Homo sapiens: one gene and its partners. The protein of the gene in region 1 interacts with the protein of each later gene in a pairwise test. Each region holds a gene or a part of one and is shown in the gene's direction. Other genes may lie near its edges. The genes, in order: ZNF444, GFAP, YWHAG, LMNA, PRKCA, WFS1 and HTT.

Region 1 (3,500 bases):
CGACAGAGAGAGACCCTGTCTTAAAAAAAAGAAAAAAGAAAAAAAGGGATCCATTGTGGCTGGAGTATAGAGAATCTGGGAGCAGGCAGAGATGAGAAAGTAGGGCTGGGCTGCATGGTCTCATGGCCATAGTAAGCAATTTGGGTTTTGAGCATCACAGGAAGCAGTTGGAGGGCACTGAGCAAGGAAGTGACAGGGATTTACAGTGAAAAAGTTTTTGTGATCACTGTGGAGTGATTTGGCTCTAGGTGGCGAGAGTAGGCATACACGGGTCTTGTGGCAGCCGTCCCAGCAATGAGATGACGTTTGTGGTTAGTGACATGGCGGTCAGGAGCCCAGGCTTTGGTTGTATCAGGAGGAAAATTGTCTGAACACAGACTTCCTCTCAGACCTCACCGGCTAGAAGCAGATTATGTGCCCACCCTCTGCCTTGTGGTCAAGGGGACTTTGCTATATAGTTCCTTATGATACAGTCCAAGCTGCTGTAATGAAGAGACCCCAAGTACAGGGCTCCACATAGGACAGAACTGATTCTTTTCTCCCATAATACTCCAGAGGTGTTCTGGGGCGGGCTGGCGCCTGAGCCCCATGGGGTCATCAGGGTCCCTTCTGTCTTGATCTTCCAGTGTCCTTGAGGTCAGGGGCCGGCAGTCTTGTCCTGTAAAGAGCCAGCGAGTGACTATCTTTGGCTCTGTGGACAGCCTTACAGGCCACCCAGGCCCTGTCACAGCCACTCGGTAGCTCCAAGGCGGCCGTGGACAGCGCGTGAGCAAGTGGGCGTGGATGTGCGCCAGTGAGACTTAAGTAAAACAGGCTGCAGGCCAGATTCGGCCCACCAGCTCAGAGACCACCATTTCTCAAATGCTTTGAAGTCAGGACTCCTTTCTGCCTTCAAAATTACTGAAGACCCTAACATGCTTTTATTGATGGGAGTCATATCTATTGTTACGTATCATAGTAGAAACCAAAACAGAAAATTGTAAAGTATTTATTAATGCATTTAAAAATGGCAATCACGGCTGGGCGTGGTGGCTCATGCCGGTAATCCCAGCACTTTCGGAGGCCAAGGCAGGTGGATCACCTGAGGTCAGGAGTTTGAGACCAGTCTGGCCAACCTGGCGAAACCCCGTCTCTACTAAAAATACAAAAATTATCCGGACGTGGTAACGCACGTCTATAATCCCAGCTACTTGGGAGGATGAGGCAGGAGAATCGCTTGACCCTGGGAGGCGGAGGTTGCAGTGAACCAAGATCGCACCATTGCACTCCATCCTGGGCAACAGAGCGAGACTCCATCTCAAAACAAAAATTAAAAAAAAAAATAGAGACAGGAGAGCTCGCTGCCTCTCTCTATTCTACGCCATGGGAGGACACAAAAGGAGGCCGTCGGCAGCCTGGAAGAGGTGCTCACCAGAACCCGACAGTGCTGGCACCCAGATCGCAAATTCCCAGCGGAAGGGACTGGGACAGGCCGTCATAGCTGTCATAGCGGAGCACCGTGGACTGAACTGCTATGAGCTTATTTCTCAGTTCTGGGAGCGGGAAGCTCAGAATGCCATCATGGTCAGTTCCTGGTGAGGGCCTCTGCCAGGCTGCAGGTGGCCTCCTTGCTGTGTGCTCCTGCTGGCAGAGATGGACAGAGTCCCGGTGTCCCTTTCTCTTATAAGGCCACAGCCCTATTAGGCCCAGCCCTTGTGACCTCAGTTAACTTTCATTACCAGTTAAAAGCTTCGTCTCCAAATACGGTCACACTGGGGTGAGAGCTTCCACATGTGAATTTTGGGAGACAAATTCAGGCCACAGCAGTTAGTTGGGGTGGCTTCTGAGTAGGCTGCAAAGTGTCTGCTCCCAGGGTGTGGGGTGCACGGCCCCACAAGTCCAGTGAGGGTGGTGCTGATGGTGACCTGCTGCTGCCAGGCCTGCTGCAAGCTCTTTCTGTGTTTTCTGGTTGAATCCTCAGGACAGGCTGCGGGAGGAGCTGCAGGACTGAGGTACAGAGGCCAGGGGCCCAGGGCAGGACCCAGCCTGGACTTGACTCCCTGGGATCCCAGGAAGGGCACACCCTTTCCTCACCACCCGAGTGAGCGCTGCCCCCTCACAGAGACCTCTTTGCCCCCTGGGCCAGGCAGAGCAGGTGAGTGCTTTATCTTACAGGGGAAACCGAGGCACAGAGGCCGGGCCTATCCTGGGTATGTGGGCGGCTCAGAAGCGCGGGTCCCAGGCCGGGTGCAGTGGCTCACGCCTGTAATTCCCAGCACTTTGGGAGGCCGAGGTGGGCGGATCACCTGGGGTCAGGAGTTTGAGATCAGCCTGGCCAACATGGTGAAACCCCATCTCTACTAAAAATATAAAAATTAGCAGGCGTGGTGGCGGATGCCTGTAATTCCCGCTACTCAGGAAGCCAAGGCAGGAGAATCGCCTGAACCCGGGAGCTGAGGTTGCAGTAAGCTGAGATCCGCCACTGCACTCCAACCTGGGGGAAAGAGCGAAACTCCGTCTCAAAAAATAAAAAGTAAAAAAAAAGAGCGTTGGTCCCATTGTGAGTCTGGGCACCGCGGGCAGGGTCTCGGCGGGCAGGGGTCTCACCGGCTTGTTCCCTGCAGGCGCTGCGGTCCGGGAGGCCCCATGGAGGTGGCGGTGCCCGTGAAGCAGGAGGCCGAGGGCCTGGCGCTGGACTCCCCGTGGCACCGCTTCCGCCGCTTCCACCTGGGCGACGCGCCGGGCCCGCGGGAGGCGCTGGGGCTGCTCCGCGCCCTGTGCCGGGACTGGCTGCGGCCCGAGGTGCACACCAAGGAGCAGATGTTGGAGCTGCTGGTGCTGGAACAGTTCCTGAGCGCGCTGCCCGCCGACACGCAGGCCTGGGTGTGCAGCCGGCAGCCGCAGAGCGGGGAGGAGGCGGTGGCCCTGCTGGAGGAGCTCTGGGTGAGCCTGGCGGGACTGCAAGCGGGGAAGGGAGAGGGGAAGGTGCCAGGGAAGCCACCAGGAAGCCCAGGGAGGAGCACCACTGAACCCCTGAAAACCAGTGTGACTCGCGGTGGGGAGGCTGCGGTACAGGCTGCGGTACAGCGTGGAGGGACAGTCCACGTGCGGCACCCTCCATCCCCACACCAGCTGCAAGTCAGGAGGGCCCCAAGACCCTGGCATACTTGCGAGTTCTCTAGGACTCACAGCCGTGTTCACGGTCACGGCTTATCAGAGAAGGACGTGCTGGAAGCAGCTGGGAAGAAGGCCACGAAGGCTCCAGGGAGCGCAGTTACCAGCTGTCCTCTCCCCGCACCCCGCCCGCACGCAGGGGGTCTTGCCGGCCAGGAATTCTCCTCAGACCGTGGTGTCCTGGGTTCTTACTGGGGACTCCTCCCCGTTCTGTGTGGCTGACCTCAGCCTCCCGCCCCCTGAAAGTCAAGGATACCCCCTGGTCCAAACTCTACCCCAAATTCATCTTGCTTTTGGGCTGGCCTGAGTCCCCCGGGGCAGGCAGACCCTCCTTATCATGCGTGAGG
Region 2 (2,842 bases), on another chromosome or scaffold:
GCCAAAGAGGACATACACCAGCTCCCTCCACTCTTTTCTTCCTTCCTCTCCCTGCTACCTGCAACTCAACCAGCACAATCTTCATAGGCAAGAAAGCAAAGCAGCTCAAACATGATTCAACACTGATCAGTGTTTACCACTGGATAAATCTGAGTTCACACTTTCCTTCTCTGACCTAAATGTGAAGTCAGGAAACACATGTGCCCTACTTCCATCCTGAGCTCAGTCCCCAATCTCCCACCAGCCTCAGGCCCCTCCACTTCTCAGATCAGGTCCCAGACCTGCCCATGAAAATGGGGAGCAGGCTGTAACAGATTTGTCCACATGTTCCTACCACCTGTCCCAACCCAGGGTACCCACCCAGAGACATCTGGTATCATTTAACAAACACATTGAAGGACAACTGGTCTTCAGAGCTGAAGAGAGCTCCTAGGGGGAGAAGCTGGGACAACAGTGAAATAAGTAGCAGCAGCAACGACAGAAGTGAATGGTGACAAAGACTGCTGTGATGAGCAGGTAGCCTATCAGGGTGAGCTCCACAGCCGAGCGAGTCTCAGGATCTGAGAACGAGGCTGGGTAGTGCCCATGAGATGTCACACCCAGCCGGAAGCCAGCAACTAGCACACCCTGCCTCCAGCAATAGTAGATGCCCCGGTCATCCAGCTGGGTGAAGCGGATGTGGAGCTGGTTGCCGTGGTCAATGAACACCCTCATGGACCTGTTGACACCCTTCAGGTACTGTGTGCGGTAGAGGTGCTGGCGGTCTTTGTCCCAGGCCACTGCATGCTCTGGCCGGGCCCCAGGACAGGAGATGATGAGTCCATGGCCCAGTCTCTGCTGGTGGAACTGAATGGGCACCTGGGGCACCCAGGGCCGGCTGCCCACTTTGGACACATAGTTAATGATGGCCAGCACGCCCTCCCGGATGGTCTTTGTCTTCTCACAGGGTACTAAGCAGCTCCGAACCAGCACCTCAGGCGTGTGGTCCCTGGCCTTGGTCCGCAGCTTCCTTGGCACAGCCCTTGAGCCACAAGACACCACATCGGGCACGGCCTTGAGGTAGCGTGGGGAGAGGTCTGGGCTCTGCAGGTAGCAGAGGCCGATGCGCCACTGCTCCCCACGCACTCCGCAGCGGTCACAGGGGGTCCATTCCCAGAAGGTGGTGAAGACATGGAGGTGCCCATAGTATTCATCTGCAAAGGGCTCCTGGCCCTTGTCCTGGAAAGTGGCCACCATTCCCTCACTGTTCTGGATGTCCACATCGTAGGCGTAAAAGTAGTCCCCCTTGCGGGTGCCGCAGAAGTACAGGCCTGAGTCCTCAGACTGAGCCCTGAAAACCAACAAGCTGAACATGCGGATGCTGAAGCGGGTCAGCATGTCGCTGCCCACACGTACCTGGGCTGCCTCCGTCAGCACCCGCCCATCAAAGTCCGTCAGCACTTTGGTGTGGCTGCTACCTAGGTGCTTTTGGTAGAACCAGACTACAGCTGGCACCTCTTCGGGTTTGCAGTGACAGGGAAGCTCAAAGCTCATGTCGGCCAGGTAGGCTGCATTTTCAAACATCAGGAAAGCAGGGCAGGGGGTCCTCTGAAAAATGTTTTCCTTCTCCACAATTTCAAAGGCCTGGAGCCCCCATGCCCACAGGAGCACAGTGGTGAGGGCCAGGTGCATACCTGAAGGAGGCAGGGGTCAGAGGGGCAGGGCAAAACCAGGGCATTAAAGGCTCATAGGGCTCCTAGAAAGCTCTGCTAAGCGGAAGCCTCTAGATGAGGAAAGGATTATGCAGCCAGGAAAAGCAGCAACAATCTGCAGAGGAAGCCGCCAAGTGCAAGGCAATTTATTCCCAGTGGATGTACAAGATGCCCTTCTAACATTCCAGACCTGATCTCAGGGTGGGGGGGGAAAGCCATTCTAGAACCTGGCCTTTACTCCCCTTTCTAGAACACTGGCGCTCACCCAAGAATGGGTCAAAGGAAACCGGAATGAGAAGGGCGGGCCGAGGTGCTCGGGCAGGGAGATCTCTGCCTCAGTGCTCCAGGCCCTGCCCTGCCAGCCTGGTGGAAAAGTCTTTCATCAACCTGGGGGATGAAGGAAACCCACCCTCCTGCATATCTGGCCATCCGGGAGGCTGGCTGGACCTGAGCTGATGGCTTGGGACTTTCCCAGGCCCAACCTGCACAAGAACTGAGTCTCTAGGGGAAAATTCAACACCTCAAATGATGTAGTATTTGATCATTTGTTGATTACATGTCCATTCATTGGTTTGGGGCTATAAACATTCTTGTTAAGAGCTGTGGAGATCAGTGTTTGTTTACCATAAAGATTTTGCTTTTTCCCTTTTATGAGTGGAGGCTGTAACTGGTATAGCCAGCATTTGGTTGGGCACACACTCATCTCTCAAGGCCAGTGGGCTAGAGGCTTGGCAGACTCTAAGGGTGGGAAACAAAACCGCTCTCAACTTCCTGAGCTCTTGACTGTCCATGGATACACACAGTTCAAAACAGCGAGACACTGAGGGACTGGAGAAGTGGGGAAGACTTGATTCCTGTTTTTGCTCTGAAAATTCCAAGTTGAGAAGGGAACCAGGTGTGGGTTTCTTATTATGGTCCTGCAGAACCCCCAAGACAACAACCAAAAAACTGCCTCCAGTGACCACTGGGACCTCTGAGGGTAGCTTGCCGCATCAGTCAACCTGGTACAGCTCCAGCAGCTCCTGCAGGAGCCTCTCCTCCTCCTGGAGCCCACCAGACTGCTCCTCCAGACCCTGCTCCTCCCAGCTGAGCCCCTCCTTCACGGATCTGGGGTTGCCCATGGCTTGCAGCTTCTGAAACAAGCCCTTGCA
Region 3 (3,500 bases), on another chromosome or scaffold:
CATACAACTCTGGGGAATAAAAACTGAAACTTTCTACATTTTCCAACAGCCATGACAGTAAATTTTGGGGACCATGTTTACAAGTGTTGCATTCGTAGAAACAATTTATTAACCAGGGTGTGATGGGAGGCTGAGGTGGGAGGATCACCTGAGCCTGAGAAGTTGAGGCTGCAGTGAGCTGTGATCACGCCATTTCTCTCCAGCCTGGGCAACAGAGTGAGACCCCATTTCTTTTCTTTTCTTTCTTTCTTTCTTTTTTTTTTTAAAGAAGAAGAAGGTTAGGCAGAATGGCTCATGTTTGTAATCCCAGAACTTTAGGAGGCCAAGGCTGGAGGATCACTTGTGCTCAGGAGTTCGAAACCAGCCTGGACAACATAGGGTGACCCTGGTCCCTACAAAAAATACAAAAATTAGGGGGCGTGGTGGTAGATGCCTGTAGTCCCAGCTTCTCTGGAGGCTGAGGCAGAGGAGTTTGTGGCGTGGCTGCAGTGAGCTGTGATTGCACCACTGTACTCCAGCCAGGGCAACAGAGTGAGACCCTGTCTCTGTTTAAACAACAACAACAAATTTAATGACTGTTTTGAAAAATGTTACCTCCCTTCCCAAATGATACAAGATCCCGTATCTTCCCACATTGAATAGTCATTCTGTCATTCTGTCTTGATTAAATCATTTTAGACACTATTAGAATAACTTGTTCTTTTAAGAGGTTATCTGTTGACCTTTAAAACTAATATGGTGGGGATCTCTTATTTTAATTTAAAAATAACAGATTCTTATGCAAGTAATTATGATCTAAAGGATAAAGGATTTTTAAAAATTTTGATTTAAGGTGTTCAGAACAACTTTTCTTTAGACTTTTTAGAGCTGAAGGGTTTCCCCTCTAACTTAGTTTTTCACTGGCAGGGAACATCTGGGCGTGTTCCAAATGTGGTCGAGCTACTGTATCCAAAGGTGATCCTGGCATTTCATAATCTCCTTGTTCCAATGTGTCTGGGGACAGCTAGGCAGACTTTACATAAGTACAGATTGCCTCTCTGGGCACTGCTGGGAGACTTCATTTGTGGCAGGAGGAGTGCCCCCAGGACTGGTGAGATAATTTGAGCTTTAAATAGCTCCTGGCCCTTGAAATAAGGACAACATGATTTAGGGGAAAGGCCAGAACTTGATCTTTGTGGCCTTCGGCACGCTGGCCTCTCCTTGCACTGGAGGCAGTCATGAGGGCTGCACCGCGGGGCGGTTTGTCTTCAGCATTCGCACACTCAGTAAAGTATGCCAGAGATGGGTGGCAGCAGCGCCCAAGGGCTCAGCTCCTTCCAAAGCCAAGTCTGGGCAGTTTTTTTTCAGGCTGTATGGAACTAGGGTTTATGGAAAGGAAGCGATGTGAGGCAGCTAAGGCAGTTTCCGCTTAATATAGAGAAGAGGATGAAACGGAGAAGAGACACTCGATACAGGAAGATGAGCTGGGAGATCGTTAGGAAATGTAGACATCCCCTGTGGTGAGAACTAAAATGAAGGAAAATTATTCAGGGTATTCTTAAAAGTAGTTCCTCATGTTTCTGTAGCATTTTACTTTTTCAAGAAGACTTTGCTGGGCACAATGGCTGTCACCTGTAATCCCAGCACTCTGAGCGGCCAAGGTGGGAGGATCACTTGAACTAAGGGTTCAAGACCAGCCTGGGCAACATAGTGAGACCTTGTCTCTACTAAAAATTTTTAAATGGCTGGATGCAGTGGCTCACACCTGTAATCCTAACACTTTGGGAGGCTAAGGTGGGTGGATCACTTGAGGCCAGGAGTTCAAGGCCAGCCTGGGCAACATGGCAAGACCTTGTCTCTACAGAAAAATACAAAAATTAGCTGGGTGTGGTGGCATGTGCCTTAGTCCCAGCCACTCAGGAGGCTAAGGTAGGATTGCTTGAAGCCCTGGGAGGCTGAGGTTGCAGTGAGCCAAGATAGTGCCACTGCACTTCCAGCGGATTGATATAGTGAGACCCCATCTCTAAATAAAGAAATAAATAAATCAGCCATAGACTGAGGCGGGTGGATCACTTGAGGCCAGGAGTTTGAGACCATCCTGGCCAACATGGCAAAACGCTGTCTCTACTAAAAATACAAAAACTAGCCAGGCATGGTGGCACACGCCTGTAATCCCAGCTACTCGGGAGGCTGAGGCAGGAGAATCGCTTGAACTTGGGGGGAGGTTGCAGTGAGCCGACATCATGCCATTGCACTCCAGCCTGGGCAACAGAGTGAGACCAGGTCTTTTTGAAACTCTGTCTCCAAAAAAAAAAAAAAAAGAAATCAGCCATGCATGGTGGTGCACACCTGTAGTCCCAGGTACTCTGGAGATTGAGGTGGGAGGATTGCTTGAGCCCAGTAGTTTGAGGCTGCAGTGAGGTGTGATCATGCCTCTGCACTTCAGCTTGGGAAACAGAGTAAGACCATGTCTCAAAAAGAACAAAAAAAGACTTTCTTATTTGTCTGATATACCTGTATATTACCTTATGAAAGAAGCAGAAATCCCCATTTTGCAGATAAGAAAACCAAAGCCCAGAGAAATGAAGCGGCTTGTCCCCAAGATTGCTTAGCGAATGATGGAGCTGGGAAAAGCCCAATCTTCCGTTATTTGTGGACACATCAGAATTCAGCATGAGTGACAGCGGTCTGCTGGATGACAGATCGTCAGTGCAGAATGAGACACGAGGTGCCTGTGTTTATTCATGCAGGAGGAGTGTTTGCAGAAGTGCCGGGAACAAGAGGTGGTGGAGCAAAGCATCTCTTTCCTGGTTTCCTTCTGCTCTGAACTCAAGTAGTACCCACCCCCTATTCTTCCCCTCTTTTGAGTCTGTTTCACTGAGGGCACGGCTGGTAGGAGTAACGTTGTCCAGCATTAAAACAGAGCATCAGTAATGTCTAGGAAAATGTTAACTTTAACAACACCACTAATCAGTTTAGAGAATATTTGAGCGTGTAGCACTTGCTGATCATTCATTCAGAAAATGAATTGCCTGCCATAAACTAATAAGCATGATTTGGTTTATGTTTTGATTTAATTATCTCTGAGTAGATGCTGCTTGAAGTAATGACTGTAATCACTTTTGCCAAGCATACCCCCCGTTTATAATTTAAGAAAAAAAATTTTTTTTTTTTTGAGATGGGGCCTTGTTATGTTGGCCAGGCTGGTCTTGAACTCCTGGCCTCAAGCAGTCCTCCCCACCTGGTGTCTCAAAGCACTGGGATTACAGGCATGGGCCAACATACTGAACATAATGATTCAAACATAGAAAAAAAAGTCTCCTGGTAGTTCAGTTCCCCCATGCCCCAGGAGTTTAGTACAGGGGTGTCCAGTCTTTTGGCTTCCCTGGGCCACATTCCCTTGGGCCACACATAAAATACACTAACACTAACAATAGTTGATGAGCTAAAAAAAAAAAAAAAATCGCAAAAAGAATTCTCAGTGTTTTAATAGAGTTTACGAATTTGTGTTGGGCTGCATT
Region 4 (3,500 bases), on another chromosome or scaffold:
AGCAGTGGTTACTTTGCCGGGTTGGGGGGGAGGTAGGGGCTATCAAACCTCATGATTGGCCGCACACAAAGGTGTGAGTATGTGTATATTTGAGGGTGGGTGGGAGTGGCACTTTCACTAGGCCTCCGTATCACTCTCTGACTGGGGTATCTCCCAGCAAGCGAGACAGAGGCAGACACGCTTCCCAGACTGTCTTACTGGGTCTCTCTGTGTTATTCTCTGCAGTGTCTGTGTGTATCGTGCCATTTTCTATGTTTTGCACCAATCTGCTGTGAGTGTCCTCAGGTGACCTGGGGGCAGGTTTTTAGTGCCTGAGCCTACCCGTCTCCAGGCTTTAGTTTCCCCCTGTAAAAGTATAGGAGTTGGTTCAAGAGAAGGTTCCTCTAGAAGCCTTGAGCCTGTGAACCGTCTAGTCTCCGGGTATTTGTGGGACACACAGAAAAAGCCCCACGACCCAACAGGTAGAACACTGGCTGAAATCAGCAGGGCAGAGCTGAGACAGGCTCAAGTAGGCTGAGGGGTAGGGAGGTTTTGGGTGAATGGGAGGGAGGGACAGAGAGAAGGAGGATATATTGCAGTAGGAGGAGTTGCTGGAACAAAAGGAGGGGTGGTAGGAGTGGCTTGGGGTGGCAGCAGAAGACGCCCTGTCACATGGCGGGAAGTCAGCCTGGGCAGAGGTCTAGGTGTCCAGGAGGGGCTGGGTGTGGTGGCTCACGCCTGTAATCCCAGGACTTTGGGAGGCTGATGCAGGAGGATCACGTGAGGTCAGGAGTTCAAGACCAGCCTGGCCAACATGGCGAAACCCTATCTCTACTAAAAATGCCAAAAATTAGCTGGGTGTGGTGGCAGGCGCCTGTAATCCCAGCTACTCTGGAGGCTGAGGCACAAGAATTGCTTGAACCTGGGAGGTGGAGGTTGCAGGGAGCCGAGATCGCGCCACTCTACTCTAGCCTGGGCAACACAGTGAGACTCTGTCTCAAAAATAATAATAATAGGGGCTGGGCGCGGTGGCTCATGACTGTAATCCCAGCATTTTGGGAGGTGGAGGCGGGTGGATCACCTGAGGTCAGGAGTCCGAGACCAGCCTGGCCAACATGGCAAAACTCCGTCTCTACTAAAAATAGAAAAATTAGCTAGGCATGGTGGTGCAGGCCTGTAATCCAGCTACTCGGGAGGCTGAGAAGCAGGAGAATCACTTGAACCTGGGAGGTGAAGGTTGCAGTGAGATCACCTGGGCGACAGAATGAGACTCCACCTCAAAATAATAATAATAGTAATAATAATAAATGAAAAATTTTAAAATTAAACAATTAAAAATTTTAAATTAAAATTAAACAAATTAGATGCCCAGGAGGATACAGGAGAGCATTTGCCACCAGGCGGACTCCCTGTACCCACCCGGCCACAGGGGGCGATGTTCCTGGGAGACAGGAAATGCCCAGGGGCTGGGAGACCCTCTGCTCTTCTGCTCCCTTCCTGTGTGCTGCCTGGCAATGGGGAACTCTGAGGGCTGGTGAGCAGGGCTGCTGAGGAGTGGGTCTAAGGAGTCCCTGCAGGGCTGGGCCAGCTCCTCCACCTCCCCTTTGTCTTCCCCTCCCACTTGTTATTTTTAGCTACAGTGTCTGTCCCTCTTGCTTCTCCCCCAGATTGGGAGAGGAAACGGAGGCCTCTCCCTCCGGGCCTAGCCTGTTGCCCCCAGCAACCGGGCCCAAACAGGCCTGTGGCCGGCCCTGGCTTCCATATCTGGCATCAGAGTTGGGCTGAGCAGGGTGACTCAGAGGGTGGGTCAGCGCCTGGCCCGGTGCCCACCTAGCCCCTTTGCTGTGCTGGTGCCTTTCTTCCCCAAACAGCCCCAAGGGCCCGGGCCTGCTGCAGCTGGGGAGCCGGACTTCCTTGTCCCACCAGGCACAGCTCTTCAGACCCCTGCCTTGGGTCACATTTGCAAGTGCCAACTCTCATTTCTACCTTATTCTTTTCCTCTCTGTTCCCCTCCCCACCCCCTCTCTTCCCTCTTTCTGAGATCAGATTTGCCAGTGATGGGAAGAGTTAGAAACAGGATGCCCAGCCCTTCTCGCCTCAAGAGGCCACTGGGATGCAGCCACTCCTGTGCTTGGGGAACCTGGAGGATGCAAGGGAAAGGACTGGCACTCTGCTGGCACAGCACCCGGCCTGGGGCAGGACACGGGCGAAGCCAGGGTCTCCCCTGTGAGCACTAGAGGATTTCCCGACCCCTGCCCGGGTATTGTGTGCCTGAGCATGAGTCACCTGAGGGGCCCAGGTTCCCACCCTTCCCAGCTCCTCTGGCCTGCCCCACCCTGTCCTCCCTGCCAACCCAGCACGGGGACGGCACTCAGCGTGTGCTCAGCTTTCCTGATGCCAACCCCCAGTGGAGTGGGCTGCACCACCACCCTGGGACCGAATGCCTGGCTAGGGTCTACTTTGGTCCCTGCTAGGTCTGAGGACCCCTCCTAGGAAGGAAATGGCACTTGGGGGCGGGGGCAGGGAGGAGGGAGGAGAGACACTGGGCTCTACTGTACCCCTAGTCATCTCTTGGGGTGTGCGTGTGGCTCCCTGGCCACAGAGCTCCCAAGGTCTGAGTCATGAGCCCATGGGTGATAGTGGCTTCTTCCCCGCAGATGGGAGCTCCCCGTGCCTAAGAAAACCACAAAGGTTCTTCCTCACTTCCCTCTCTGCTCGTGGTTTTTCTCATCTGCAGGGTGTGTCTTAGTCCTTTAATCTCCTCTCTTTGCAGTGCTAGTCAAAACCTCCACCAGGGAAAGACAAATAACCCCCTTACTGTTTTTTTTTTTTTTTTTTTTTTTTTTTGAGATGGAGTCTCGCTCTGTCACCCATGCTGTAGTGCAGTGGCACAATCTCGGCTCACTGCAACCTCCGCCTCCCAAGTTCAAGTGATCCTCCTACCTCAGCCTCCTCAGTAGCTGGGACTACAGGTGCACACCACCGTACCCAGCTAAATTTTTTTTTTTTTTTTTTGAGATAGAGTCTCACTCTGTCACCCAGGCTGGAGTACAGTGGTACAATCTCAACTCACTACAATCTCCGCCTCCCAGGCTCAAGCAATTCTCGTGTCTCAGCCTCCCAAGTTGCTGGGACTATGGACGTGCACCACCTTGCCCGACTAATTTTTGTATTTTTGATAGAGTCAGAGTTTCACCATGTTGGCAGGCTGGTCTCGAACTCCTGGCCTCAAGTGATCCACCTGCCTTGGCCTCCCAAAGTGCTGGGATTACAGGTGTGAGCCACCACACTCAGCCAGCCCCCTTACTTTCCTTGGAGACCATATACTGTGGCTTGTGCCAAAGTGGTACAGCATGGATTTCCAGCTCCCCTATCTACTTGCTGCGGGACCCTAGATATAGCTTTCTGTGCCTATTTCCTCAATTGCATAGGAATAGCACCTATCGCATAGGGTAGCTGTGAAGATGACGTGAGTTAACATAATATTTAGAGCAGTGCTTGGTACCTAATAAGCTCTATAT
Region 5 (3,500 bases), on another chromosome or scaffold:
CTCAAACGATCCCCCTACGTTGGCCTCCTAAAGTGCTGGGACTACAGGTGTGAGCCACTGTGCCTGGCCTTAATTCAGCAAACATTTCCATGAAAGGTTTTCTTCATGCCTGGTACTGTGCTCAGACTTTGGGATACAAAAACAAACAAACAAAAAAACTCACAGTCTTGGCTTTTTTTTTTTGAGACGGAGTCACTCTCTCTTCCCCAGGCTGGAGTGCAATGGTGCGATCTCTGCTCAATGCAACCTCCACCTCCCAGGCTCAAGGGATTCTCCTGCCTCAGCCTCTCGAGTAGCTGGGATTACAGGCCGCTGCCACCACGCCCGGCTAATTTTTGTATTTTTAGTAGAGATGGGGTTTCACCATGTTGGCCAGGCCGGTCTTGAACTTCTGACCTCAGGTGATCCACCCGCCTCGGCCTCCCAAAGTGCTGGGATTACAGGCATGAGCCACCGCACCTGGCCACAGTCTTGGCTTTTTAAGACCACTGGTTCCACTGCCAAACATGGCATTGGAGCATAAGGAGACTTGATTTTGTAAAAGAGCATGTTCTTGTTCAATGCCACACAACAGGGACTGGCAAACTGTGGCCTATTCTCTATGGCTTGTGAGTTTAGGAAAGGTCACAACAAGGAAATCCAAAGAGTCATATATCGTGACACGTGAAAATTAGGTCAAATTTTAAATTTCAGCATCCATAAACAGCTGTTTTGGGACATCACCACACTCCTTCGTGTACCTGTCATCTACAGCTGCTTTTGCACCATGAAGGCAGAGTTGAGTTGCTGCAAGAGACACTCACAGCCTAAAATATTAATACATACTGTCTGGCCCTTTGTGGAAAAAGTTTGCTGAGCTCTGTCGTAAAGTAAAACTAAACAGAGGACAAAAAAGGACATTCCAAAGCACTAATCAGTCCGTTGCAGGGCTTGCAAGTGGCCTACAAGAAACAGACATGGCCGGGCGCGGTGGCTCACGCCTGTAATCCCAGCACTGTGGGAGGCCAAGGCGGGCAGATCACGAGATCAGGAGATCGAGACCATCCTGGCTAACACGGTGAAACCCCGTCTCTACTAAATATACAAAAAAAAAAAAAAAAATTAGCCGGGCGTGGTGGCGGGCGCCTGTAGTCCCAGCTACTCGGGAGGCTGAGGCAGGAGAATGGCGTGAACCCGGGAGGTGGAGCTTGCAGTGAGCCGAGATGGCGCCACTGCACTCCAGCCTGGGCAACAGAGCAAGACTCTGTCTTAAAAAGAAAAAAAAGAAACATAGATGTTTAGATGCCACCATAGTGAGACGTTGCCAAAGCTGGTCTTTCCACTCCTCAGAGGCTGCCCATTTAAAATATGACTCCATAATCAGTAGCTGTAATTGATGCGATTATTACTATTTTCAACTGCCCATTGATCAGAGATTGACTTTCTGTCTTATGCCTCTTTGAAAACTCTTGGGAGGAACCTCTCAGTGCTTTTGTGTTTTAGAATCTCAAAATGGCTTTGCAGCCACCCGGAGCCTCTGGGTGTGTAGCAGTGGCCGCGGAGTCAGGCGCCGGCCACTACGTGTCAGCCTAGCGCTGGCGGCACGTTGAGCTTCCTGCTCCCAGCCGTTCCCACTGACTCTGAATCAAGTCACGCCAGGGAGAGATGAGAGCAGCATGCTCGGAAGAGACAACCACAGCTCTGAATCCCAGCCCAGAGCCTGTAACCCTGGTTACCCTGATTAAGCTCTGGAAAGCTACAAAACAAAGAAATGAAGATGAAATTAAAGTTCATAACAGGAAAGCTAGAGACTGGGGCTCCCAGGGTTGCTTCCTGGCTATTAGCACCAGCTTCATCATTTTTTTCTCCCTGTGCAGCACTTTAATGTTTAATATCCTCTGTGAAATGGGGATGTTTTCTAGCAGAGAGCAGAGGTCATTATTTCACTGTTAAACCCCTCCATCTTCCTATCTGTCCCAGCATAATGTCCTCAGGAATATGCAGATTTATTTGGGTCTATGATACATGCCCATCATGGGGCCAACACTTAGCCTACCAGTGACAGAGAAAATAGAAAAACAGTGTTTGGGCATATTACAGATGCAAAAGAACATTTGATTAGCATCTCCATCTAGAGTCCCCTGTCCCATGTCCAGTAAATATATTGAGCATGTGTAATCCTAAGCCTGAGAGATGTGTTTTCAGGAGTATCCATTTAAACACGATACTACATTAGTATGGCACGCCTCCCAGACACTGCAAACCAGCCTTTAAACATTTGGACCATGGAGAAGCACTAGTTAAAATGAAATAATTGCCTTATGTGGATTCCTCACACCATCCCTTACTTAGAAATTTATTATATGTATAGGAAGATAGGGAAGAATGTTCAAGGCCGTTACTATAATAGCATATGTAACAGGAAGGCACGTTGATGGAGAGCCATTATTTCAGGGTTATGTAATGACTTTATACTTCCCAAGGCCCTCATGCAGTAGGGTTTATTACTTATTCTTTCTTTGGAAAAAAATGTGAAAGAGCTCTAAACTGAGCACATCTGCCCATGCAGTCCCCATTTAACTAATGAGAAAGCAAAACACAACCTGTGAAGAGCAAAGGAAGCCACTTGGCTGGGGAGGAGCCCTGCTCATGTGTTGAACCTTGGTCTGCAGGATCGGCTGTACTTCGTCATGGAATATGTCAACGGTGGGGACCTCATGTACCACATTCAGCAAGTAGGAAAATTTAAGGAACCACAAGCAGTGTGAGTATTATTTTTTAAGTCCTTTAATTTGAACAACCAAGTCCTACCAACTGGAAACTTCCTTTTTTCCCCCCCGCTTGAGATTGGGGGTCTCACTCTGTCACTCAGGCTTTGCCTCCCAGGCTCGGGTGATTCTCCCACCTCAGCCTCCTGAGTAGCTGGGACTACAGGCACACACCACCATGCCTGGCTAATTTTCTGTTTTTGGTAGAGATGGGGTTTCACCATCTTGCCCAGGCTGGTCCCGAACTCCTGAGCTCAAGCTGTCTGCCCACCTCGGCCTCCCAAAGTGCGGGGATTACAGGCGTGAGTGAGCCACCATGCCCAGCCCCAACTGGGAACTTCTGCTGGGTGAAATGGGAAAGTGGGATTCTGCCCAGTTTTAGGTTGAATGTTATAAACCTAAACATGGGAGGCGGAGGGCAGATATACTGGTAGGATCCATCTAAGATGGTTCCTAAGGAGCAGTTTATTCTATTTCCAGTATTTCCAATAAACTGGAGATGTTGCCATATCCCATCATCACCCAGGTCCACCCTTGTTGATGGAGTTATTCTTATCTGTTGAACAAATGGTTATCACACACCTGCTCTGCACCAGGCACTGGGGTTGCGAAAGGAACGAGGTGCTCCCTTTCCAGAGGGAGTTTACACTCCACCCTGGAGGTGGAGAAGTCACCTAACAATTAATAGTGCGTTGCTGTAACTTTAGAGACTTGCGCAGGATACCAGGATAACACGTAAGCCCCTAAAAATCG
Region 6 (3,500 bases), on another chromosome or scaffold:
GCAAGCCCCCAGCCCGCCCAGGCTGCATCCAGCCCGTGCTCCTTCCACATCTCCTGTACCTGGCTGTCCCATGGTCACCTCACAGCTCAGTCTACAGTGAGCTACTGAGGCCTGTGCTACCTGCCACTTGTGTGGGCCCCCCCAAGGCTGCCTCATCTCTTTGCTGCAGCTACACCTGGGTGCTGCCCCGACTCCTCTCCTCTTGCACACACAGCTGATCCATTAGGAGGTCTGTCAGCGCCCACTATCACGGCTGCCATCTTGGATGCAGCCTGCCTCCTCCCTAGGGTTTCTGCAGCACCCTGGCTTGTCTCCCTCTGCCCTGCCCCAGCATGGTCCTTTCTTTCCCATCCTTCCCCTGGAGGCCCTCCTGGTCACCATCTCACCACGGCAACTGGGGTCCTTCAGGGGCCTCATTCCCTCCTAGGGGATCATGTTGGATAGAGGGGTCAGTGGGCACGTAGCTCTCGCGGATCACGTTGGATGGAGGGATCAGTGGGCACGTAGCAGGCTCTTGGTGGAAGATGTTGGATGGAGGGGTAAGTCGGCCCATGGCAGGACGCATGTTGAATGGACGGGTTAGCAGGCATGTAGTAGGCCCATGGCAGACACTTGTTGGATGGAGGTGTCAGCAGGCACATAGTAGGTGTGTGGCAGATCATGTTGGATGGAGCGGTTTAGCAGGTGCACAGTAGGCCCTGGGTGGATCACGTTGAATGGAGGGGTTGGGGGCGCAGATCATGTTCGATGGAGCGGTTGGCAGGGTACTGCCCTACAGGGCGGCTTGTCACCCGTGCTGTGAGAAGCCCCACGCTGGCTGAAGAGGAGGGTGTCAGCATGCACTGGAGGTGCATGTTGTAAGGCTTGGCAGGTGAACTGGGTGAAAGGTGTGGGTGAGTGGCCCCAGGCATAAGGAGCTAGGCAGAGAGGGACACTTGGGGTGGGGGACAGCACACCCAGGGGCCGGGGGCCAGGAGTGGAGGCTGGCACTTGGCAAACCTGCCCCCTTCCTCCTCACCCAGCCTGGTCCTCAACCCTCAGGCCGCCCAGGGAAGGGTTTCCTCCACCTGAACCCACTCAGCTCCTTTCTTAGCTTGGCCCCACGCCACCGTCCCCAGCCCATTGCTCTGTGTGAGGGTGGCAGTGGGGCTGCAGTGTGGGGCGCCCATGCTGTTTTCTCTCATGCTTCAGCCAAGAACTACATCGCGCTGGATGACTTTGTGGAGATCACTAAGAAGTACGCCAAGGGCGTCATCCCCAGCAGCCTGTTCCTGCAGGACGACGAAGATGATGACGAGCTGGCGGGGAAGAGCCCTGAGGACCTGCCACTGCGTCTGAAGGTGAGTGACCAAGACCCCGGTCAGGCCGGAGCCTGCCTCCCAAGGACTCGCGCACCTCAGGCAGGGCACCTTCCAGGAAGCTGCAGGTGGGGAGGTTCGCGCCTAACAAAGAGTGTCTTACAGCCGTGCCGCTGGTACCTTTGGGTCATCATCTATCGTCATAAGGATGTGTCCTCGGGAGAGAGGCCTTTCTTTTCTGCGCCGTCAGGCTCAGAAACCAGGGGCGGTGTTGGGCAGGAGTGCTAGGATGGCAAGCAAGGGGCCCCTGGGTCTTTCTGTGCAGTGTAGGGGGCAGTGGGGCGGGCTGGACGCAGACTTTCATCTAGACTTCATCACTTAGCAGATTTCTCCATGTATGGTCCAGAGTGGAGGCCAGTGCCTTGAAGATGCCTTCCCCGAAAACAAAGTGCCGTGTCCGTCAGGCCAGGGAGGACGTGCAGAGGCGCCTACTGCCCCTGGATCTGCAAGGGCTCAGGGAGCGAGGCCAGTGTGGGAGCGTGGTGGGTGACACTTGTGCAGGGTGCCATTGGGCACACCTGGAGGACATGAGCAGCTTTGGCGGCAGGAGGAAAGCGGGGAGCGGGGAGCGGGAAGCCCAGCAGTGCGGGCCCTACTCCTGGCCTGACAGCTTGTTTTCTTGGCCATGTGGCCCTATGGCCTCTCACAGAGTTGCTCACAGTTCAGCTCGCATGGTTGAATTAGATGTGTGCCTGTCTCACTCTGCAGAGAACACCAGGATTTCCAGAAGCTTGGCCTCCTGACCCAGGATCCCCAAGCTGAGGCCAGCACAGGGGGCCCCAGCAGATGATTGTCACAGAGGCTGCGGGCAGTATCATGCAGGCACCCTGGGGTTCTGTCTTCTGAACTGACTGAGAACCTGGAGGAACTGCCATCATTGTATTCAGATGGGCGCGTGAGTCAGGGCCAGGACCAGGAGATGGTTGGGCCACCAACTGTCAGGCAGGCAGCAGGCTGAAAGGTCACCGTCCTCGAGCCAGGGAGAAGGTCAGAGTAGGCCCGCCCTCCGGTGGGGGGGAAGAGCAGGAACCCAGGTGCTGCAGGAGCAGCTTCAGCCCAAAGAGCAGCAGGCACAGCAGCCCTGCTGCAGGGACTCGGAGCCAGACAGGTCTGAGTGTGAGCCCCCCGAGTGCCCAGAGCTGCGAGTCCTTTAGGGTGGCAGGTGGAAGGCTCTGCTCCTCCCACTTGGGACAGGCTGTATGTCCAGGGTATGACACCGACCGGTCTGCAGAGGTTCTGAGACATGGGCCAGGATGGCCAAGAACTTGAACCAAGGGAGCACATGGTTTTTACTGATGGTCTGCTCAGAGCTGGCCCTAGGCAAGCATATTCACAGATTGGGTGCCATCATCTCCTTACTAATGGGAGATGAGGAAGCTGGGGTGCTGGCATGGTTTTGGCAAAGACACTCCCGAAATGAGAGTGAGGGTCACAGGTGAACGGGTTAACTTGGAGAAGACCCTTGGGCCAGGCGGCCATGGCCCAGGTGTCCCAGTTTATGCCATCTGGTGTAAGTACTATTATAATAATGCCTCCTTGCATATGCGTCCTGTTCGGAAAATTATGTCACCTAGTTATGGATGGTGAGTCTAGTGTTGTGTAGCATCTGAAAATCCTATTTATTTATGTTACTTAATGACAGGGTCTCGTTCTGTTGCACAGGCTGGAGTGCAGTGGCACGGTCACAGCTCACTGCAGCCTCAACGTGCCAAACTCAAGTGATCCTCCCACCTCAGCCTCCCAAATAGCTGGACTACAGGCATGTGCCACCACACCCAGCTGATTTTTTTGAAAACATTTTGTAGCGATGGGGGTCTCACTATTGTTATCTACGCTGGTCTCAAACTCCTGGGTCAAGCGAGCCTCCCACTTTGGCCTCCCACACTGCTGGGATTCAGGCGTGAGACACTGTATCCAGCCTGAAAGTCCTTTTTAGAAGGGAGAGATTTAAGCTGTTTTGACAAGAAGTAAACAAGACTCTGTTTCCCTTTAGTTTTGGATGCTGTCAGAGCACTTCGATTCCTTTGCAGTTTGTCTTCTTAGAAGTCTCTTGTGAGGGAGGCAATGAATCGTCACAAGCGTCTCCCAGGGCTGAGAGCTGTCCCACCTTTTAGTAGCCTTTTGTAGAACAAGGAGAGGTCT
Region 7 (3,500 bases), on another chromosome or scaffold:
AGGATGAACTGTACACATCAGTTCATCCTTTTTAAATGAGCATGAGGTTATTTTGGGTTGTTAGGTGTTACAAACACACTAATGTGTTTTTGTCTATTAGAGCAGCATGGCCCAGTTGCCAATGGAAGAACTCAACAGAATCCAGGAATACCTTCAGAGCAGCGGGCTCGCTCAGAGGTAATGCTGGAAACACAGGTCGTCCTTGTGTTAGGACAACCCAGGATATAAAGGATATAGATTTGTACGGGAATAAATTCACAGGACAAGAAATCGATGTGCCTTATAGGTGGGTTTACTGCAGAAGTGCCATAATAGAACCTTCCTACTTTTAAAACAACCAGATCTCACTTTCTAAAGAGTAAAGGATGACCGGCAGGATCACGTCTGTGACGTGAGTGGAGGCAGTTTGCACTCCTGGTGGCTGTTTGAGAGGTAGCATTTAGAATGCCTGTATTCACTGTCCTGTGATGAGTGGGAAAATAGGTTATCAGGTTTATCTTAGCAAAATCAAAGCATGTCATCTAATTGCTAAACAAGAGTTGGCAAATCTGAGAGACATTACTCAATCCTTGGCATGCAGGACTTACATCTGCATCCTGTTGCCATTTTATGTCTTCAAAGCATTTAATCATTTAGTTGTGTTTGCAAAGTCTTTGAGAAGCCTTTGTCAGAAATCCCTACATCTCCTATGTGAGTGTATTTCCATGACTGCAGAATAAGTTAAACTTTTACCTTTTTCCTTCCCTTGCGGGGCGGGGTGGGGGGCAGGGATTGTGTGTGTGAGAGGGAGAGAGAGACAGCAGAGAAGGAGAATATAATTATCATGCTGTGTACTTTGAGCTGAAACTGCAAAAAAGGAAAAACACACAAAAATTATTATGCTTTTCAGTCTTTAGAGTACCTTGTCTATTATGCTTTTCAGTCTTTAGAGTACCTTGTTGATGGTGTTTTTAAATGGGATTGGGCACAATTAGGTGGACAGTTTGGGATGATTTTTCAGTCTGTAGGGCCAAGCTCTTTTGTAATTTGCATTATGAAGTTGTCACTCTCATAGCAGATGGCGGGAGATAAACTATTATTACTTTTTGACCCTAGACTTAGTCTTCAGTCCAGATGAGGGAGATTAAAAGATTATAAATATCTTGTGCCAGATGAGGTGATTTTATTTTGAAATGACCATGAATTCCTATCAGTTGTCTTACTGGGATATTTGATAGTGGAATTTGTGCATTTGAGTCTTAGATGATCTGTTTTACATTTATTAAGAAAGCCTTTATTAGCTTTTATACTGTGTATTGCCTGTTGCAGTGTTTGAGTATAAATGAAATTTCTGGAAAATATTAATGGAGTACAAACTGTGATACTTAAAAGTAAACTAGGGCCTGCATTTGTATCATGACCTGTTTGAGTATTGATGAGAAGATAGCTGTGAAGAAAAAGGTTTAAACAAGTGTATTTTCCTTTAAGAAGCCACTAATAGTGCATCTCCTTAGAGTGTATATTTCTAGAATCCTAGTGTGCAGAGTTTAGACTAAGACTAAAAAAAAAAAAAAACAAATTATACTGTAATTTCATTTTTATTTGTATTTTAGACACCAAAGGCTCTATTCCCTGCTGGACAGGTTTCGTCTCTCCACCATGCAAGACTCACTTAGTCCCTCTCCTCCAGTCTCTTCCCACCCGCTGGACGGGGATGGGCACGTGTCACTGGAAACAGTGAGTCCGGACAAAGTAAGTGTCCAGCGTGTCTGCATGGGAGGCACAGGGCGCTGAGTGCCTCTGTCACCTGTGGCAGATACAGAGAGTGCAGAGGAGGTGCCGTGGACCCAAGGAGTTCTGGCGCTCGGCTCGGCTCAGTGAAGCTGTGGTTAGAGACGTGGGGGGCCATCAAGGTCTGAGGGAGCCAAGCAGTGCTGATGTGGGACCCTTTTGGTAGGAGTGTGGGGTGAGTAGTTAGTGGGTGAATCAAGGAATAGTCGGCCGTGGCCTGCAGGCCCCTGACTGCACAGGCCTTCAAGCACATGTCAATGCCGTTAGCCTCCCTCCATCTCCTCATACCTTCTGGCCACCTGTGAGTTGCACTGCCACTGCCAGCCATTCTGGTATGTTGTCAGCACCTCCACTGCTCATACCTCATGGTTAGGGACCACCTGGAGCCTTGGTAGAGCCTTGGTAGAGCCTTGGTACTCTACTTTCCTGGACAAAGTTCAGCTTATGAATATGAATTTAGATTTCAAAAACCAGCAGCCCAAGTATAAGAAAGCGAAGGTTCAGTCCTGCCTTCTTAGGCTCTATTCGCTAAGCACCTGCCCTGCCCTGGTTGCTGGGGAGAGATGAGTAAAGCAGACAACCCAGGAGAGGATGGCAAAGGGGCCGCTAACCCTTAGTGGTTTAGCTATATTTGGAAGGCCTATTGGAAGTTCACCAGGTGAAGGGGGAGGCTGTGAGGGTGCCCAGGCAGGTAACAGAAGTCCAAAGGGGAAAACCTGTGGTGTGGTGAGCCGTATAGCCACAGCCTGCCGGCCGGCAGCCCTCTCAGCCTAGTGCGGTGTTCCCAAGCACTGGCCTAGGCCTGTAGCTCCAGGGATGTGAAGTCCCCTTGAACGCCGCCCATCATGTTCCCCTTATCCATTTTTTTCTTCCCAGGACTGGTACGTTCATCTTGTCAAATCCCAGTGTTGGACCAGGTCAGATTCTGCACTGCTGGAAGGTGCAGAGCTGGTGAATCGGATTCCTGCTGAAGATATGAATGCCTTCATGATGAACTCGGTACGGGGGGAGCAGTGGAGGCAAGGAATCCTCAGCTTTTCTTGTGACTTCCAAGTGGGATTTGTCTCATCATCATGTGACCCACTTGTTGACAACACATGTTGGGGACTCCAGTCTGGGCAGGGACGGGATGTCGGAGAGACTCCACTCTGAATGGGGCCGGGAAGTGGGGAGGACTCCATTTCAGATGGGGTCGGGACATGGGGGTTATGCTGATCGAGACAGAAAAGCACATTGTTTCAGCCACATTAGAATCCACGGAGGTGTTGTTTTGAAATCCAGCTGGCCCCAAGGCTGGGTGTATGGTTTGGGATGAGAACTATCTGGCCTCCACTGGAGGAACAAACACAGGATGTTATCATCTAAGCTCCATGGCCAAGACAGAATGGAAGTCAAGGTTGCGTATTTGCCGTAGACTTCAACACAGTGTCGTAATGCGTGACGTCAATAACTTGTTTCTAGTGTCTTGGAAGTTGATCTTTAGTCGTAAAAGAGACCCTTGGATGCAGCGAGATTTCCTCTACTCACACCTCTGTTAGATGTAGTGAGGTTCTTCACCCCCCAACCCCAGATGTCAGAGGGCACCCTGCGCAGAGCTAGGAGGCCATGCAAAGCCTTGGTGTCCCTGTCCCTCACCCGTGGGCAGGTCCTGTGAGCAGTGGGGGGGCCACCTCTTGGGTATGGTGCAGCCATGGCCCAAGCAGGGCTTCTTCTCAGACCTACTAGGACGG

What was found.
Region 2: the proteins of ZNF444 (region 1) and GFAP interact in binary tests that used the Homo sapiens proteins (3 or more experiments, as listed by UniProt).
Region 3: the proteins of ZNF444 (region 1) and YWHAG interact in binary tests that used the Homo sapiens proteins (3 or more experiments, as listed by UniProt).
Region 4: the proteins of ZNF444 (region 1) and LMNA interact in binary tests that used the Homo sapiens proteins (3 or more experiments, as listed by UniProt).
Region 5: the proteins of ZNF444 (region 1) and PRKCA interact in binary tests that used the Homo sapiens proteins (3 or more experiments, as listed by UniProt).
Region 6: the proteins of ZNF444 (region 1) and WFS1 interact in binary tests that used the Homo sapiens proteins (3 or more experiments, as listed by UniProt).
Region 7: the proteins of ZNF444 (region 1) and HTT interact in binary tests that used the Homo sapiens proteins (3 or more experiments, as listed by UniProt).

Annotation. Positions count from the first base shown.
Region 1 is NC_000019.10:56,144,287-56,147,786, forward strand, and holds part of ZNF444 (zinc finger protein 444), read left to right. Parts: exon of another isoform or gene 1-1,563; intron 1,564-1,960; 5' UTR 1,961-2,134; intron 2,135-2,603; 5' UTR 2,604-2,625; coding exon 2,626-2,922; intron 2,923-3,500. UniProt on the Homo sapiens protein: Transcriptional regulator. Binds to the 5'-flanking critical region of the SCARF1 promoter.
Region 2 is NC_000017.11:44,902,659-44,905,500, reverse strand, and holds the end of GFAP (glial fibrillary acidic protein), read left to right. Parts: 3' UTR 1-429; coding exon of another isoform or gene 430-1,671; 3' UTR 1,672-2,342; downstream 2,343-2,842. Other genes in the region: Ig-like V-type domain-containing protein FAM187A precursor, read right to left, coding at 430-1,671; DNAAF19 (dynein axonemal assembly factor 19), read right to left, coding at 2,684-2,842.
Region 3 is NC_000007.14:76,331,492-76,334,991, reverse strand, and holds part of YWHAG (14-3-3 protein gamma), read left to right. Parts: intron 1-3,500. UniProt on the Homo sapiens protein: Adapter protein implicated in the regulation of a large spectrum of both general and specialized signaling pathways. Binds to a large number of partners, usually by recognition of a phosphoserine or phosphothreonine motif.
Region 4 is NC_000001.11:156,124,711-156,128,210, forward strand, and holds part of LMNA (lamin), read left to right. Parts: intron 1-1,459; exon of another isoform or gene 1,460-1,493; coding exon of another isoform or gene 1,494-1,513; intron 1,514-1,844; exon of another isoform or gene 1,845-1,941; intron 1,942-2,025; exon of another isoform or gene 2,026-2,092; coding exon of another isoform or gene 2,093-2,205; exon of another isoform or gene 2,206-2,239; intron 2,240-3,500.
Region 5 is NC_000017.11:66,736,113-66,739,612, forward strand, and holds part of PRKCA (protein kinase C alpha type), read left to right. Parts: intron 1-2,651; coding exon 2,652-2,743; intron 2,744-3,500. UniProt on the Homo sapiens protein: Calcium-activated, phospholipid- and diacylglycerol (DAG)-dependent serine/threonine-protein kinase that is involved in positive and negative regulation of cell proliferation, apoptosis, differentiation, migration and adhesion, tumorigenesis, cardiac hypertrophy, angiogenesis, platelet function and inflammation, by directly phosphorylating targets such as RAF1, BCL2, CSPG4, TNNT2/CTNT, or activating signaling cascade involving MAPK1/3 (ERK1/2) and RAP1GAP.
Region 6 is NC_000004.12:6,293,850-6,297,349, forward strand, and holds part of WFS1 (wolframin), read left to right. Parts: intron 1-1,191; coding exon 1,192-1,340; intron 1,341-3,500. UniProt on the Homo sapiens protein: Participates in the regulation of cellular Ca(2+) homeostasis, at least partly, by modulating the filling state of the endoplasmic reticulum Ca(2+) store.
Region 7 is NC_000004.12:3,207,181-3,210,680, forward strand, and holds part of HTT (huntingtin), read left to right. Parts: intron 1-100; coding exon 101-177; intron 178-1,592; coding exon 1,593-1,731; intron 1,732-2,646; coding exon 2,647-2,769; intron 2,770-3,500.